Homo sapiens: one gene and its partners. The protein of the gene in region 1 purifies or fractionates together with the protein of each later gene. This does not show direct contact. Each region holds a gene or a part of one and is shown in the gene's direction. Other genes may lie near its edges.

Region 1 (3,500 bases):
CTGGGCGACAGAGTGAGACTCTGTCTCAAAAAAAAAAAAAAAAAAAAAAAAAGGAATATTTGAAGTCTTACTGTTTCCTTCCACCTCCTGAATATGCTTAGCACAGGTCCACACTGAATATTTAGTGAATTAATGTCTGTTATATTAACATCAAATTGGGTTCCACAAATGAATACGTATCCCTACATTAGAATATCTAATCCTGAAAGCCTGATACCACAGGCTGACAACAACTATCCCAACACTTTAGGAGATGGATAGTAGAGGTCAGAGAGATTGAACAGGATGGCTTCTGTCCTGGTGTCGTTTAATATTTTAGTTATATAGTAATTTGTCTTATGTTTCATTTCACATGTAGGGAATTCCAAATGAAAGCTGGAGAATAACAAAGATAAATGAACGATATGAACTTTGTGATACATACCCTGCCCTCCTGGTTGTGCCAGCAAATATTCCTGATGAAGAATTAAAGAGAGTGGCATCCTTCAGATCAAGAGGCCGTATCCCAGTAAGTAGGAAGTTTGGATGAGCCTTTGCAAGTGCTTTTTTACTCAACATAATGCTGAGATTAATGAGTAGGAGAATGGATTCAGGATATAAATAGCTACAGCAGCAGGTCTTTCATGGGGATATTGGAGATTGATTTATTTAGTAAAGTTAAAACTGGAAGAAAGACTTAAAGAGGCTTCCAGAGAGTGTGATATGGGTATTAGATAACTGCACAGAATTGCATGATTCTTCACTGAAAAAGTTTGCTGTGTGTATTAGTCACTATTTATTTATCTTATTGTATATTCTTTAGTCATGATGATAAATGTTCTTTTTTTTTTTTAAGTCCTAGAAAGAACACCTTACAGATTTATAACTGGATCTTAGAAAGATGAGCTTAAATAATTTTAGGTACAAAATTCATAGATTCTAAAGGCTTTTAGAACTGAGCAGTTTTACTAATATATTAAGTGGGGTTTACTTAGCCCTGTTTCACAGTATTTTTTTCAGGAGATAACATTTCCCAATAATCAAATACTTTCCTAAATCAGTATCTGACTAAAGAATTAGACCAAGTTTTCCACATCCCAGAATTGGCTTGAAGGAAAGGTGATGATTTTTCTTAGCAGCCTCAGATGTCCTTTCATGGCCAGGCTTTGGATCCAATTAGAAAGCAGAGCTTTACTGAGTACTGTTTTTGAGAATTATAAACAGAGAAGTATGTAAAAGGTGTGTTACCATTTTTTCCTCATTAAGGTTTTATCATGGATTCATCCTGAAAGTCAAGCCACAATCACTCGGTGTAGCCAGCCCATGGTTGGAGTGAGTGGAAAGCGAAGCAAAGAAGATGAAAAATACCTTCAAGCTATCATGGATTCCAATGCCCAGTCTCACAAAATCTTTATATTTGATGCCCGGCCAAGTGTTAATGCTGTTGCCAACAAGGTCAGATGGTCTCTTAGTAATTATAATTATGGTTTCATGAATCAGCTGAGTTTGGCAGGGCCACAGTGTAGTAAAAAGAGCTCAGGCTCTACAGTGGTAAACATATAGGTTCTTGTCTTGGCTCTTCAACTTGATGGTGTGATTTTGAGTTAGTTATTTAACCTCTTTAGACCTCAATTTGTTTATTGGTAAAAATGAGAATAATAATAGTTAACAGTGTTGTTTTGGGAGCAAAAATCATTTAATAAAAAATAATGCATAAACTTTTGCTTACTTACATAATAACTAGGTGTTCAGTTATTCTTAGCTTCCCACTTCTCCAAAGTTGACAACTAACTGAGCTTATGACTCACTGAAGTCCCTGTATAGTACTGCTCTAGGAATAGCGAACTAGTGTTCTCGGTGACTAGTGGTGCCCTCTTCTGACCGTCCTCCACCTGAACAAGTTATTCAGACTGAAGAATTGGCAGTTAGCTGTAGCTGATTGTTCCAGCAGAATAAATATTAGCATTGTGGAAATTGAAATTTTGGTTCAGTTGACCAAATCTATAGGAGGAGGGAAGGAGAGAGAAGACATAACTACAGCAGCAGGTACCATTACTGAAAAGCGCTCATCTTTTCAAGTGTACATTTCAGTGCTTTTAGTATATTCACAAAGTTGTACAACCATGCCACTACCTGAATCCAGGGCATTTTTATTCTATGTGTTTCGGTGACAGGTTCTGTATAGTTGTTACCACTGCTGTCTTTCTAGAATGTTGCAACAAATTTGAATTGAAAGTTCCTGTCTTATTCCCACTCTTCAGAAGTAATCTTTAACAGGTATCCCTTGAAATACTGTAAATTCTATAATTGTGCCAAACGATTTCCCAGACTCTCAGTGTCAGAAAGGAAGCTGAACTTCTGTTCTTTCAGTAGTTTGTTGCTGGTTATGAGTTGGTGGTTTTGTTGTTTCAAAGGTGTGGGTCATATAATCACTTAATTTTGTATAATTTACTGCTCCAGTATTTTCCTAATTTGTTTCTATTAGGGCTCTAAGAAGTATAATTTTACACGAGTTAGGTAGGAGATAGAATATTTTATTCATGAAATATAAAAAGATTAAGTCCAGAAAAATAAGGTTCTTCTTTCTAGCCATAGCTTATTTTGAACACCAAATATTTTCTCATTCTATTTTGTAGATGTAGATTTAAGTCTTTGAGAACATTGATGATGATAGCATTCTGTGCTTTTATCCTTGTTCTGTCTTTTTATTTAAAGAGAATTATGTGGTTAAAAAAGAAGCAGGTCATTTTGATTGCAAAGAGTTTATTTCTCAGATATGAAGATTAAAATGAGGTGAAGAGGCAGGGAGGTGAAGAAGCATAGGTGAACCAGACATGTGGTCTCAGCACATGAAACTTACAGTCTGGTAATTTCAGTATATATGAAAGGAAGTCATCTGTAAGAACTTATGTTTGGGTAGGACTTGGCGTATGGGCTGGGAAAATTTAGTGCTTTACAGTGTTTAAATACCTTCCTATGTGTTTCATATTTAATTTTAATAATGGCCATATGGGCAAGTCAGACTACGTATATATTCATTTTGTAAAGAAGAACACAAGAAAGCGAGTGGTTGTGCTAAATAAGTTGTCCTGAGCCATCCACATTTTCCTGTGGAGTTTTCCTTGTCTCCAGTAATATGTATCATCTTTTATGCTATTGGATATTTTATGTCACTTGTTTACAGATGTGCATTCATTTATGATTTTCCATGATGTGTGCTTTTTTCCAGGCAAAGGGTGGAGGTTATGAAAGTGAAGATGCCTATCAAAATGCTGAACTAGTTTTCCTGGATATCCACAATATTCATGTTATGAGAGAATCATTACGAAAACTTAAGGAGATTGTGTACCCCAACATTGAGGAAACCCACTGGTTGTCTAACTTGGAATCTACTCATTGGCTAGAACATATTAAGGTGGGTGTGTGTTACTATATCCCAAACAAAGACTCTCTCTACCCCTTTGTTTATATTAGCTTTTTACTTATAATTGCAATCAACATGAAGGTACCTTTCTAAACAA
Region 2 (3,500 bases), on another chromosome or scaffold:
ACCAGATATGAAGGTCACAGGGCCTGAGTGGAAGTTGGTGCAGCCTCCTGTCTGCCCTTTAGTACTGGGCCAGTGCTTCCTTTCGGGATTCTTAGGATTTATTTTACTGGGACCCTGACTTCAGCTATGTACTACTTTGCTTGAGGCCTGGTGGGTGGAGCATTGGACTGGGCATTGACAAGACCTGGGCTGCCTTGCTTTTGGGTAGATTAGACATGTACTCATCTCCCTAGGCCTCAGTTTCCTCATCTGTCATGCCTGCCTGTCTGCTTGCAGTCTGGTTAGAGTCTCATCTTTGTAATTCTGAAACCTTAGGGTCGCAGAGCTGGCAAGGGAACGTCCATGTCTGATACGGCCTCTGTGTGCTGTAGGTGTCTATCCCCGCTCACCAGCATCCTGAATGGATGATCGCCTAGCTTCAGACTGAGCTCTGATGGTTTCTCAGGAGCTCTGATTGTTAGAAAGTTCTTCCTTGTGCTGTGCTGAAATCTGAACCCTCCAGTAACTTACCTATTGGTTTCTGTTTCACGTTCTGGAGCCACACATAATAAATTTAATCTCTAAAGCGCTGTACAAATACAATTAAGTGGCTCTTTATGTCTTTCAGGTCACCTTCTTGACTCCTTTGCCCGTTCAGCTTTATGGGATTCAGGCCTAGATTACTTGCACGGGACTGGACATGGTGTTGGGTCTTTTTTGAATGTCCATGAGGGTCCTTGCGGCATCAGTTACAAAACATTCTCTGATGAGCCCTTGGAGGCAGGCATGATTGTCACTGATGGTAAGTGTCCCTCACATAGAGGGCATGCGTGGATCCTTGAGCCTTTTTGAAAGCTATTCGTTGTTTTGTATTTTTTAATTAGTTTAAAGTAAATTGGCAATACTTTTCCCTTCCAACAAACTTTTCTGATTATAGAACTGATACATGTTCATTTTAGAAAAAATGAGATGGGAACTGTGTAAAAAGAAAATGAAAATCATTTGCAATCTAACCACTCAGGGGAAACATGACTTAGTGTTTTACTGTATTAGCTTTTGGTCTTTCAGGTATGTAGATAGCATTTTTTTTTTAAATCATTGAGATCTTACTGGGCATCTTGTCTTATGTTCTGCTTTCTTACTTGATACATTGCCTTTTCTCAGGTCATTGCCAAGTCTTTGTAAATATATTTTAATGCCTTCATTATTGTGTCTTACGGATGTGAACCATGATTTATTTAGTGGATCCACTGTTACTTTACTCCTTACCCTGTAGCCAGTGTGCAGGGACTTCAGAGTCTAGCTTTCTGCACCTCAAGTGCCTATAAAAAAGTGGCCATATGAGAGAAGGTGGCATCTCTAGGCTCTTACACCAGATAGAGTGGGCTCTTCACCCGTTTCTTCTCCTTTGGAGTAGGGCAGTCATCCAAGGAGTGAAAGTTTCTCTCTGTAGACATCTTCATCGTGGGCTGCTTCTCATTTTTGGGATTTGGTTTGTTTTAGAGCCCGGGTACTATGAAGATGGGGCTTTTGGAATTCGCATTGAGAATGTTGTCCTTGTGGTTCCTGTGAAGACCAAGGTGAGGATTTATTAAAAAAATTTTCCTGTTTCTATTAGCAATAATCACGCCTCGGATAGACCTCATTGGCTACAATACTGCCACTGCGCAAAGCTTAAAAATTTTCCTGTTTCTTAGTGTGGGAAGATGAAGACTTAATGTCTTTGGAGCCAAGAGTATGCCATTCTGGGGCCAACATGGAGCCTTCTTCTCCAGATATCAGGGACTTTCCTGGAAACCACACTCCTTCCCTGCAAAGCCAGAAAGAAAATCCTTAATGAACTGGGATCTAGAACTGGGATTCACAGACCCTCAGGCTGATGCTTGCTTCACATGATTTGGGGCTCTGAGTTTACTATAGGCGGCCTGTTGTCTCTTCTGCTAGGGGTGCCTATTCAAGGCGCTAATTTCCAGGGCCCCTCCCAGACCCTAGAATTTCCAGGGTGGGGGGCCTGGAAGCTGTAATTTTGTCACACTCCCCAGGTGACTTTTATTAGGTAAAGTTGAGGAACCCTGAGTTATCCATGGGTCAGCCTCAAAGGCAATACAAGACAGGTGTTTCACCCTCTTCCCCCATCAGTGTTACCAAGGTTGCAGGGTTTTAGGCTCTAGGCTTTACCTAAAAGACCTGTTTGTGCCTCCTCCATTGGTGGAATTGAACAATTGGAGGGAAGTAGCTTCCTGTGTCTACAAGGAGGTTAACTGCGGGGATCTGCTCTCTGCTTTGGCATGGAAGTCACTATTCTTGGAAGTGACCTCCCATCTTATTCCCAAAAGCTGCCATGAACAGAAACCCGACATGTTCTTGTGTGCTCCAGTGGATAGATGTGTTGTCGCCTGATGGGCCTGGCTGGGTCAAGGCAGACCACACAGTTGACTGTTATAAAAATGATTTTGAGGACTTACACCCCTGCATCCTGGAGAACCAAAACCAGAGATGCCCCTAAGCCCAGATACCCCCATATCCTGCCCCTGTTTCCTATCACAGTAGACATTAGCCTTGGGACCTGTTGCTGGGAGCCCCTCAGCACCCTTTGTTTGGCCTTTCCTGATGGCACAGGCCATTGTTTGCCCAGTGGAGGAGCTCTTGGAAAATGGCATCAGGTTCCTTGTGTGTCTGTGAAAAGTGGTGACCAGCTCACCACTTCTTGGCTCCCAGTTACCCCTGGCTCTGAGGGATGGCATGCTGGTGGAATGACCTCATGGTGCTTCAGCATAGTAAAGAGGAGTAAAAGCATCTGTTTTCTTCTTTCTCCCGCAGTATAATTTTAATAACCGGGGAAGCCTGACCTTTGAACCTCTAACATTGGTTCCAATTCAGACCAAAATGATAGATGTGGATTCTCTTACAGACAAAGAGGTAATGGGGAAGTCTTGGTGGGCAGGCATGTTACTAGGGGAGGTGGAGACTACCTTAAATAGTTCTAATCCATCCTCTAAATCCTAAATTCTCTAATCCAGTCTCACTTTGTAATTTTTAAATTTAGAGGTCTAGGCCAGTTGAGTCTGAAAGCCCTAGGTTTTCTGAGGACTCCTGAGCTTTTCCTGTATTTGTTGGGCCTCCAGGTGGAGATAGTCCTGTTTCCCGCAGCCATTCTGGGGCTGTAGGGTTTGTGGGTGGAACTCGTATGCCATTGTTTGGCTGTACTATTCCTCCATAGCTGCAGTGAGGCGTGTTTAGCAAATATGAGCCTATGTGTGTCCCTACAAAAAGCCAGATGGATGGTGGGGCCTCTTGGCCACTGTACATACCAGATTGTTTTCTTGTGTTACATGAAACATTAAGGAAATGGAAAGCAAAATCTATTATCGTATGTCCTGTTTTCACACAGACAAGGAGAAAGATAGTACCAGCCCTTCTCGGTTACTACTGTGGTCACTCTGGGGCAGTGAAACCCTTCACAAAGCCTGGGGCACAACAGTGCTTACTTGCCCAGCTCAGAGGGTTATGGGTCTTAACTC
Region 3 (3,500 bases), on another chromosome or scaffold:
ACCTCTAGCCATCAGTGGCGCCTGTCTCATTCTCTGCAGGTGATGGAGGAGTTGCAGGCCGCCTCCGTGCACAGTGATGAGAGGGAGCTGCTCCAGCTGCTGTCCACCCCGCACCTGAGGGTAGTCACACAGAGCCCCTGCCCAGCCATGCCTCTGGGTCTCCTGGGATGGGGGCGGAGGGAGCTCTCCTAATGAGGCTGAGGAGTGGAGACTGAGGGAGCGATCCTCAGCACTAGTGTCTGGGCAGTTGTCTCTCTGGCATGGCGTCTGCCACCCTCCATACCACCGGCCAGCTGCGGCCTGCTGACCCTGTGAGCGGCGGGCCAGCCTTCCTTTTCTCTGGCTTTCCCGGCAGGCTGTGCTCATGGTACATGACACGGTTGCCCAGAAGAATTTTGACCCCGTTCTCCCGCCTCTGCCTGACAATATCGATGAGGATTTTGATGAGGAATCGGTGAAGATCGTCCGCTTGGTGAAGAACAAGGAACCCCTGGTAGGTGCTGCTGCCTGCCCCTCTCTAACCCACTCTTCCCCTGCCTCTCACCCCCACCCAGAACACTGGACAAGATCCTCCCCGAAGTCTTCAGAGTGAGTGACGGCAGCTTTGCCTGCGCTGCTGCTCATCCCTGTGGTGCCTCTGTGTGCAGGGCACCCCTTTCTCTAGGTGGATACAGCCCCTCTCAACTGTGGCCAACACCCTTTGTGTAGTTAATAACCTGCACAATTGTACAGGGTGACCCTGATCATGCTTTAAGCCAGAAATGGACAAACTACAGCCCAAGGGCCAAAACCAGCCCACAGCTTATTTTTTAAAATAAAGCTTTTTTGGAGCACAACCAGGCCCATTCACTTACAGATTGGCTGTGGCTGCCTTTATAGTGCGATGGCAGAGTTGAGTCGTTGTGACAGAGACTGTGTGGCTGGCCTCAAATATTTACATGTGGCCCCTTATAGAAAACGTGTGACAATGCCTGCTCTGAATGTTGAGGAAGCACAGGGCATTCCTCTCCCCAGCAGACAGACTGCTATCACTTTGGTCCTGGTTCAGCATTGATTTACCGAGCAAAGGGACAGCGTTGTTTATGAGATGCTCAGAAGTGGTGGAAGCCCAGAGAATTGAGATTGGCTCCAGAGGATCCCACAGCTGGCATTCTCTATTTCCAACTTTCCCCAAATGACCTCCGACGAGCCTCTTCTGCAAACAGACGAGGATCTCTCCTCTGCCTCTGTTTCCTCACTTGTAAAATGGAGTGGCCATCCATTGATTTAGCAAACACATTGTGAGCCCTCCTATCCAGGCTCTGTATTGGGTGCTGGCGGTTCAGAGCTGAATAAATGATGGATAGCGATGCTGGAAAGTTCTCAGTTCTGGGGGGCTAGAAGTCCTGAGGTTCTTAGCTGATGGCCTCTCTTTCTAGCAATAATTATCTTACGTACTTCAAATAGATGGCACAGATGATGTTAACAATAAGTGTGCAAATGTGTTTGCAGTTACAGCCACTAATAAGTGGTTAACATATGTTGAGTGCTTACTGTGTACTAAGTGCCTTGAGTGGAATCCTTGCAACAACACTGTGAGTTAAATGCTGTCCCACATCTCACAGGAAACAGGCTTGGAGAGGATAAGAGATTTCCTTGTTAAGTCCACATGCTTTTTGTAAACGGCAGAACTGTGTTCACACCCAAGGCTGTCCAGCCCTAGAGCTTAGCTCTTAAGCTTTCTGCCGTCCTGCTGCAGTCCGGCCTGTGTGGTGCAGGAAATCGAGGGCTCGTTAGTGCCTTTCTCATCCTAAGTGTCATCTCTGCTGTGCTTCATGGGCCAAGTCCTGGTCCCGAAGCCCTGGCTGGGGTGCATAATTGGTTTCCCTCAGCAGCAGCAGAAGGCCCGGTAACCCTGTGATTGGGTAGAGGCAGGGTGAGAATTAGCTGGCACGTGTCATCCTCATTATTAAATGTCTTTGCAAGTGGTAGGAACTGTGATATGAGAGAGATGTGATGGAGAACTTACTGGATTTGGCATCACAAAAAGCTTTCCCCTTTACCAGCTGGGTGACCTTGAGGATATTTAACTTCTCTGAGCCCCAGTCCCTCATCTAAAATGTTGCAGCATTATTGTGCCTTGTAAACTGTACAGTGCAGGGCTATATTAATGGGGGATGTTGGTTTTGTTTTGTCTTCAGCATTGGGAAGGTCCCCACTGATCTCTCTGGACTGTCAGAGGGAGGGACTGGGGAGGCTGTGTTGGGTCCAGAGAGTAGGGGTCTGAGGTTTGGAGCTGCTGCTTAAGAACCTGTCTCTTCTGTCTCGGGTTCAGGGTGCCACCATCCGGCGGGACGAGCACTCAGGGGCTGTTGTGGTGGCCAGGATCATGCGAGGAGGCGCAGCAGACAGGAGCGGTGAGTGGCGGCAGTGCAAAGCTGGCCCAGCCCCGATCATGGCCATTGTTCCAGAGCCCTCCACCTTTGCTAATAGGTCCCCTTACCTCCCTCCTATCAGGTCACCTGTTTGGGATTTGCTTTGCTTTCTGGGGTTGTGGCTGGAATTCTCATCTCCTTCCCAAGTCAGTAGAAATTTTAATAGAAAATATAGGCCAGCTGGGCATGGTGGTGCACACCTGTAATCCCAGCACTTTAAGAGGCCGAGGCAGGCGGATCACTTGAAGCCAGGAGTTCCAGACCAGCCTAGCCAACATGGCGAAACCCCATTTCTACTAAACACACAAACCTGGGAGGCGGAGGTTGCAGTGAGCCAAGATCATGCTGCTGCACTCCAGTCTGGGCAACAGAGTGAGACTCTGTCTCAAAAAAAAAAAAAAAAGAAAAAAAAAAAAAAGCCAGGCACAGTGGCTCACGCCTGTAATCCCAGCATTTTGGGAGGCCGAGGTGGGCGGATCACCTGAGGTCGGGAGTTCGAGACCAGCCTGACCCACACAGAGAAACCCCATCTCTACTAAAAATACAAAATTAGCCAGGCTTGGTGGCACATGCCTATAATCACAGCTACTTGGGAAGGCTGAGGCAAGAGAATCGCTTGAATCTGGGAGGTGGAGGTTGCAGTGAGCCGAGATCGCGCCATTGCGCTCCCGCCTGGGCAACAAGAGTGAAATTCCGTCTCAAAAAAAAGAAAAAAAGAAAAAGAAAATATAGGCCATGCACGGGTGGCCCACACCTGTAGTCCTAGCTGTTCGGGAGGCCCAGGCAGGAAGATTGTTTGAGCCCAGGAGTTTGAGGTTGCAGTGAGCCGTGATTACACCACTACACTCTAGAGTGGGCGACGCAGTGAGACCGTCTCAAAAAAAAAAGAAAAAAAAAAAAAATATATATATATATAAATAGTCATGGAGTACTTTGGGGTGATTGAGAAAAAGCTCATGCGTTGGTTTAGTCCAAGGACTGTGACAGTTAAGAATATAGCATGGGCTTGCGGGATTACTAACTGTGGGACAGGGTTGACACCCTTCCCCACCATCCCAGGTCTTGTCAAGCTACTATTACAAAGAG
Region 4 (3,500 bases), on another chromosome or scaffold:
TTGTTTGAGCTCCTTATATATTCTGGGTTTTGTTGTTGTTGTTGTTGTTGTTTTTGAGACAGAGCTCTGTTACCCAGGCTGGAGTGCAGTGGCGTGATCTCGGCTCACTGCAGCCTCCGCTTCCTGGGTCCAAGTAATTCTCGTGCCTCAGCCACCAAGTAGCTGGGATTACTGGTGTGTGCCACCACACTCAGCTAATTTTTGAGTTTTCAGTAGAGATGGGGTTTCGCCATGTTGGCCAGGTTGGTCTCGAAGTCCTGGCCTCAAGCAGTCCACCCGCCTCGGCCTCCCAAAGTGCTAGGATGACAGGCATGAGCCACCACACTTGGCCCTGTATTCTGGTTATTTATTTATTTGTTTATTTATTTTTCTGAGACAGAGTCTTGCTGTTGTCTCCCCGGCTGGAGTGCAATGGCACGATCTTAGCTCACTGCAACCTCCACCTCCCAGGTTCCAGGAATTCTCCTGCCTCAGCCTCCCGAGTAGCTGAGATTACAGGCACCCACCACTATGGCCTGGCTAGTTTTTCTATTTTTAGTAGCGACAGAGTTTCACCATGTTGGCCAGGCTGGTCACAAACTCCTGACCTCGGGTGATCTGCCAGCCTCAGCCCCCGAAAATGTTGGGATTACAGGCGTGAGCCACCCTGCCCAGCCATATTCTGGTTATTAATCCCTTGTCAGATGGGTAGTTTGCAAGTATTTTCTCAGGAGGAAGAAGAACTTAATAGGCACTGGATAATAGAATGTTAGAGTAAACCTACAAAATCTATGAGGATAAAGGAAAGGATTTTAGATTACCAGGACAGGATTTAACTTAGAGGTGGTGAAGCACTTCTGTGCTGGGAGCCATTTAAGAAATTACTAAAGAGTATAAAAGAATTCTTGGTTCTGCAAATTTTTCAAAAACTGGAAGAACAACTCTGGGTTTAATGTGGTTTACTTGGACTCTTTTCAGAAAAATAGCAGTGTGTCCTTTGGCCAGGAACTCAGTGAAAAAATAATAATAGTGTGGATTGGCTGACCTCAGTTTTCTCCCAACTCATACTTTTGAAATGCAAGCGGGCAGAATTGGGAAGTCATTTTCAAAAACTAAATTAGTTCAACTAATCCCTTCTTTAACTGGGTAATTTCTTTTCACATTTTCCTCTGTGTATGCTTCTGCTTGTTTGTTTTAAATAAGCACACTCATATCTTGTTGTTGCTTCTTGGAAATGATGCTACACCCTCTCCTTTTTCAGGCATACCCAGATGGAAGTAGCAAAGAAAAGAGAAGAGCAGCAATTGCCCAGGCCTTAGCTGGCGAAGTCAGTGTGGTGCCTCCATCTCGTCTCATGGCATTGCTGGGACAGGTAATTCAATTCCTGTAGAGGCCAGGTGTGGTGGCTCACACCTGTCATCCTTGCACTTTGGGAGGCTGAGGCAGGAGAATCACTTGAGCCTAGTAGTTGGAGACCAGCCTAAGCAACATTGTGAGACTCTGTCTCTACAAAAAGTAAAAAAATTAGCGGGTTATGGTGGGGTGTGCCTGTGGTCTCAGTTACTTGGGAGGCTGAGGTGGGACAATCACTGGAGCCCAGAAGATTGAGATGACAGCTATGATCATGCCATTATACTCCAGCTTGGGCAACAGAGTGAGACCCTGTCTCCAAAAATAAAAATAAATTTAAAAAGTGAACTCCTGGTACAATTTCCTAATTTCCTATGTATAAACTATGTCTTAGCTGAAGAAATTGTACACCCTAAGAATTGGGGACTACCTACAGAGTTGCTTATTCCAGTAACTGTGCTGTTCCACTCTCCCTCTTTCCTGGGAGAGGCAATATAGATTAGTGGTTAAGAACAAGCTCTGGAGTCAGTTAGAATTAGGGTTACCATAGAATTTATCATCCTGTCTGGAATATCGTTGAGAGTACAGTTGATCCCTATGCCAGAACACCAAGTGCAAATAGTAACTGTCCTGGAAAGATTGGAACAAATGCCCATCCTAGTTAGAATCCAGGCTTTCTCATTTACCAGCTATATAGTCTTGGCAAATTACTTAACTTTTCTGGTCCCATTTACTCGTCACAGTATTGAGAGTAAGGATTAAGAGAAATAATGTTCATAAACACTTTATACATTTCCTGGCACCTTGTAAATAGTAAATGGTAGCTGCTGGTGATGATTTTTTAAAAAATTACTAATAGTGTTGCCAGCATGGTCATTATTATAAAGCTACTTAGAGTAATAGATATATTATAAATAACAAAGGGCACAAGTGATTAATAGGGATGTTAATAACCTTTTTGCACTAAATCTGCATTTAGAAAAGGACCAAAAAGCTATTTGTTGCAGGCCTGCAGTGACTCTGAGATTCAAAAGTAAGCTGCTTTTTGGCCTGGCGTGGTGGCCCATGCCTGTAATCCCAGCACTTTGGGAGGCCAAGGTGGGTGGATCACCTGAGATCAGGGGCTCGAGATGAGCCTGGCCAACATGGTGAAACCCCGTCTCTACTAAAAATACAAAAATTAGCTGGGCGTGGTGGCAGGAACCTGTAATCTCAGCTACTCGGGAGGCTGAGGCAGGAGAATCACATGAACCCAGGAGGCAGAGGTTGCAGTGAGCCGAGATTGAGCCATTGCACTCCAGCCTGGGAGACAAGAGCGAGACTTCATCTCAAAAAAAAAAAAAAAAAAAGTAAGCTGCTTTTTGATTTCTTAATCAAACTAATAGCAGTGCATCGTTTAAGTAGTACTTCAGGGCTTACAGTGAAAAACAGTCCCATGTGCTTCCCTTCTCCACCTCTGATTCTTAACTTTCCTGACTTAGCTCCATAGCTGAATACCATGTTTATACTGTTATTACCTGATTTTTTTTTTTTTTTTTTTTTTTTTTTGGTCATTAGCAACTAACTTTCTTCAGCGAAAAATGATTTGTCTTATACCCACTCTCCTCAATACACACTTACTCTTCTTCTGGATTTTCAGTAGAGCTGTATCACAACTTTTGGTTCAATCTATATTCAATGTTTACATAGTTATTTTTATATAGCTATTGTTCACAGCTAAAAAATAATTACATGTAATTTCTTACATAAATTTTTATGATTTGCAATAATTATTGCTTATTTTTTCTTTTGCCTAGTTTTCTATGCACTTCTGCTAGTCCAGCCTGAGTATTTCTAGTAGAACCGTCAAAAGTCCTTTTTTTTCCGCTTGCTGATATCTTTCCTGAGGCCCTTCTCTTTTTGTTCCCATCAGGACTAGTTCTCTTGCATTGCTGCACAGTTACTGTACCAGGACTTCTCTCATCTTCATACTGGGAATTTTGGGTCTCTTATTTTTTTGGTAGGTCTTATTTATAGATTCCTCAGTTTTCTTTTTTTTTTTGAGACAGAGTCTCACTCTGTCGCCAGGCTGGAGTGCAGTGGCACGATCTTGGCTCACTGCAACCTCCGCCTTCTGGGTTCGAGCAATTCTCCTGCCTCAGCCTCCCGAGTAGCTGGGACCACAGGTGCCC

What was found. The genes of interacting proteins can lie anywhere in the genome.
Region 2: the proteins of MTMR2 (region 1) and XPNPEP1 fractionate together in Homo sapiens (co-fractionation; one large-scale study listed by BioGRID). This does not show direct contact.
Region 3: the proteins of MTMR2 (region 1) and MPP3 purify together in Homo sapiens (affinity purification with mass spectrometry, with the first as the bait; one large-scale study listed by BioGRID). This does not show direct contact.
Region 4: the proteins of MTMR2 (region 1) and SMU1 purify together in Homo sapiens (affinity purification with mass spectrometry, with the first as the bait; one large-scale study listed by BioGRID). This does not show direct contact.

What each region holds. Positions count from the first base shown.
Region 1 is NC_000011.10:95,847,608-95,851,107, reverse strand, and holds part of MTMR2 (phosphatidylinositol-3,5-bisphosphate 3-phosphatase MTMR2), read left to right. Parts: intron 1-358; coding exon 359-508; intron 509-1,245; coding exon 1,246-1,434; intron 1,435-3,208; coding exon 3,209-3,394; intron 3,395-3,500. UniProt on the Homo sapiens protein: Lipid phosphatase that specifically dephosphorylates the D-3 position of phosphatidylinositol 3-phosphate and phosphatidylinositol 3,5-bisphosphate, generating phosphatidylinositol and phosphatidylinositol 5-phosphate.
Region 2 is NC_000010.11:109,868,012-109,871,511, reverse strand, and holds part of XPNPEP1 (xaa-Pro aminopeptidase 1), read left to right. Parts: intron 1-607; coding exon 608-781; intron 782-1,482; coding exon 1,483-1,559; intron 1,560-2,799; coding exon 2,800-2,898; intron 2,899-3,500. UniProt on the Homo sapiens protein: Metalloaminopeptidase that catalyzes the removal of a penultimate prolyl residue from the N-termini of peptides, such as Arg-Pro-Pro. Contributes to the degradation of bradykinin.
Region 3 is NC_000017.11:43,826,647-43,830,146, reverse strand, and holds part of MPP3 (MAGUK p55 subfamily member 3), read left to right. Parts: intron 1-15; coding exon of another isoform or gene 16-39; coding exon 40-120; intron 121-355; coding exon 356-493; intron 494-2,314; coding exon 2,315-2,396; intron 2,397-3,500. UniProt on the Homo sapiens protein: Participates in cell spreading through the phosphoinositide-3-kinase (PI3K) pathway by connecting CADM1 to DLG1 and the regulatory subunit of phosphoinositide-3-kinase (PI3K). Stabilizes HTR2C at the plasma membrane and prevents its desensitization.
Region 4 is NC_000009.12:33,066,675-33,070,174, reverse strand, and holds part of SMU1 (WD40 repeat-containing protein SMU1), read left to right. Parts: intron 1-1,240; coding exon 1,241-1,351; intron 1,352-3,500. UniProt on the Homo sapiens protein: Involved in pre-mRNA splicing as a component of the spliceosome. Regulates alternative splicing of the HSPG2 pre-mRNA. Required for normal accumulation of IK.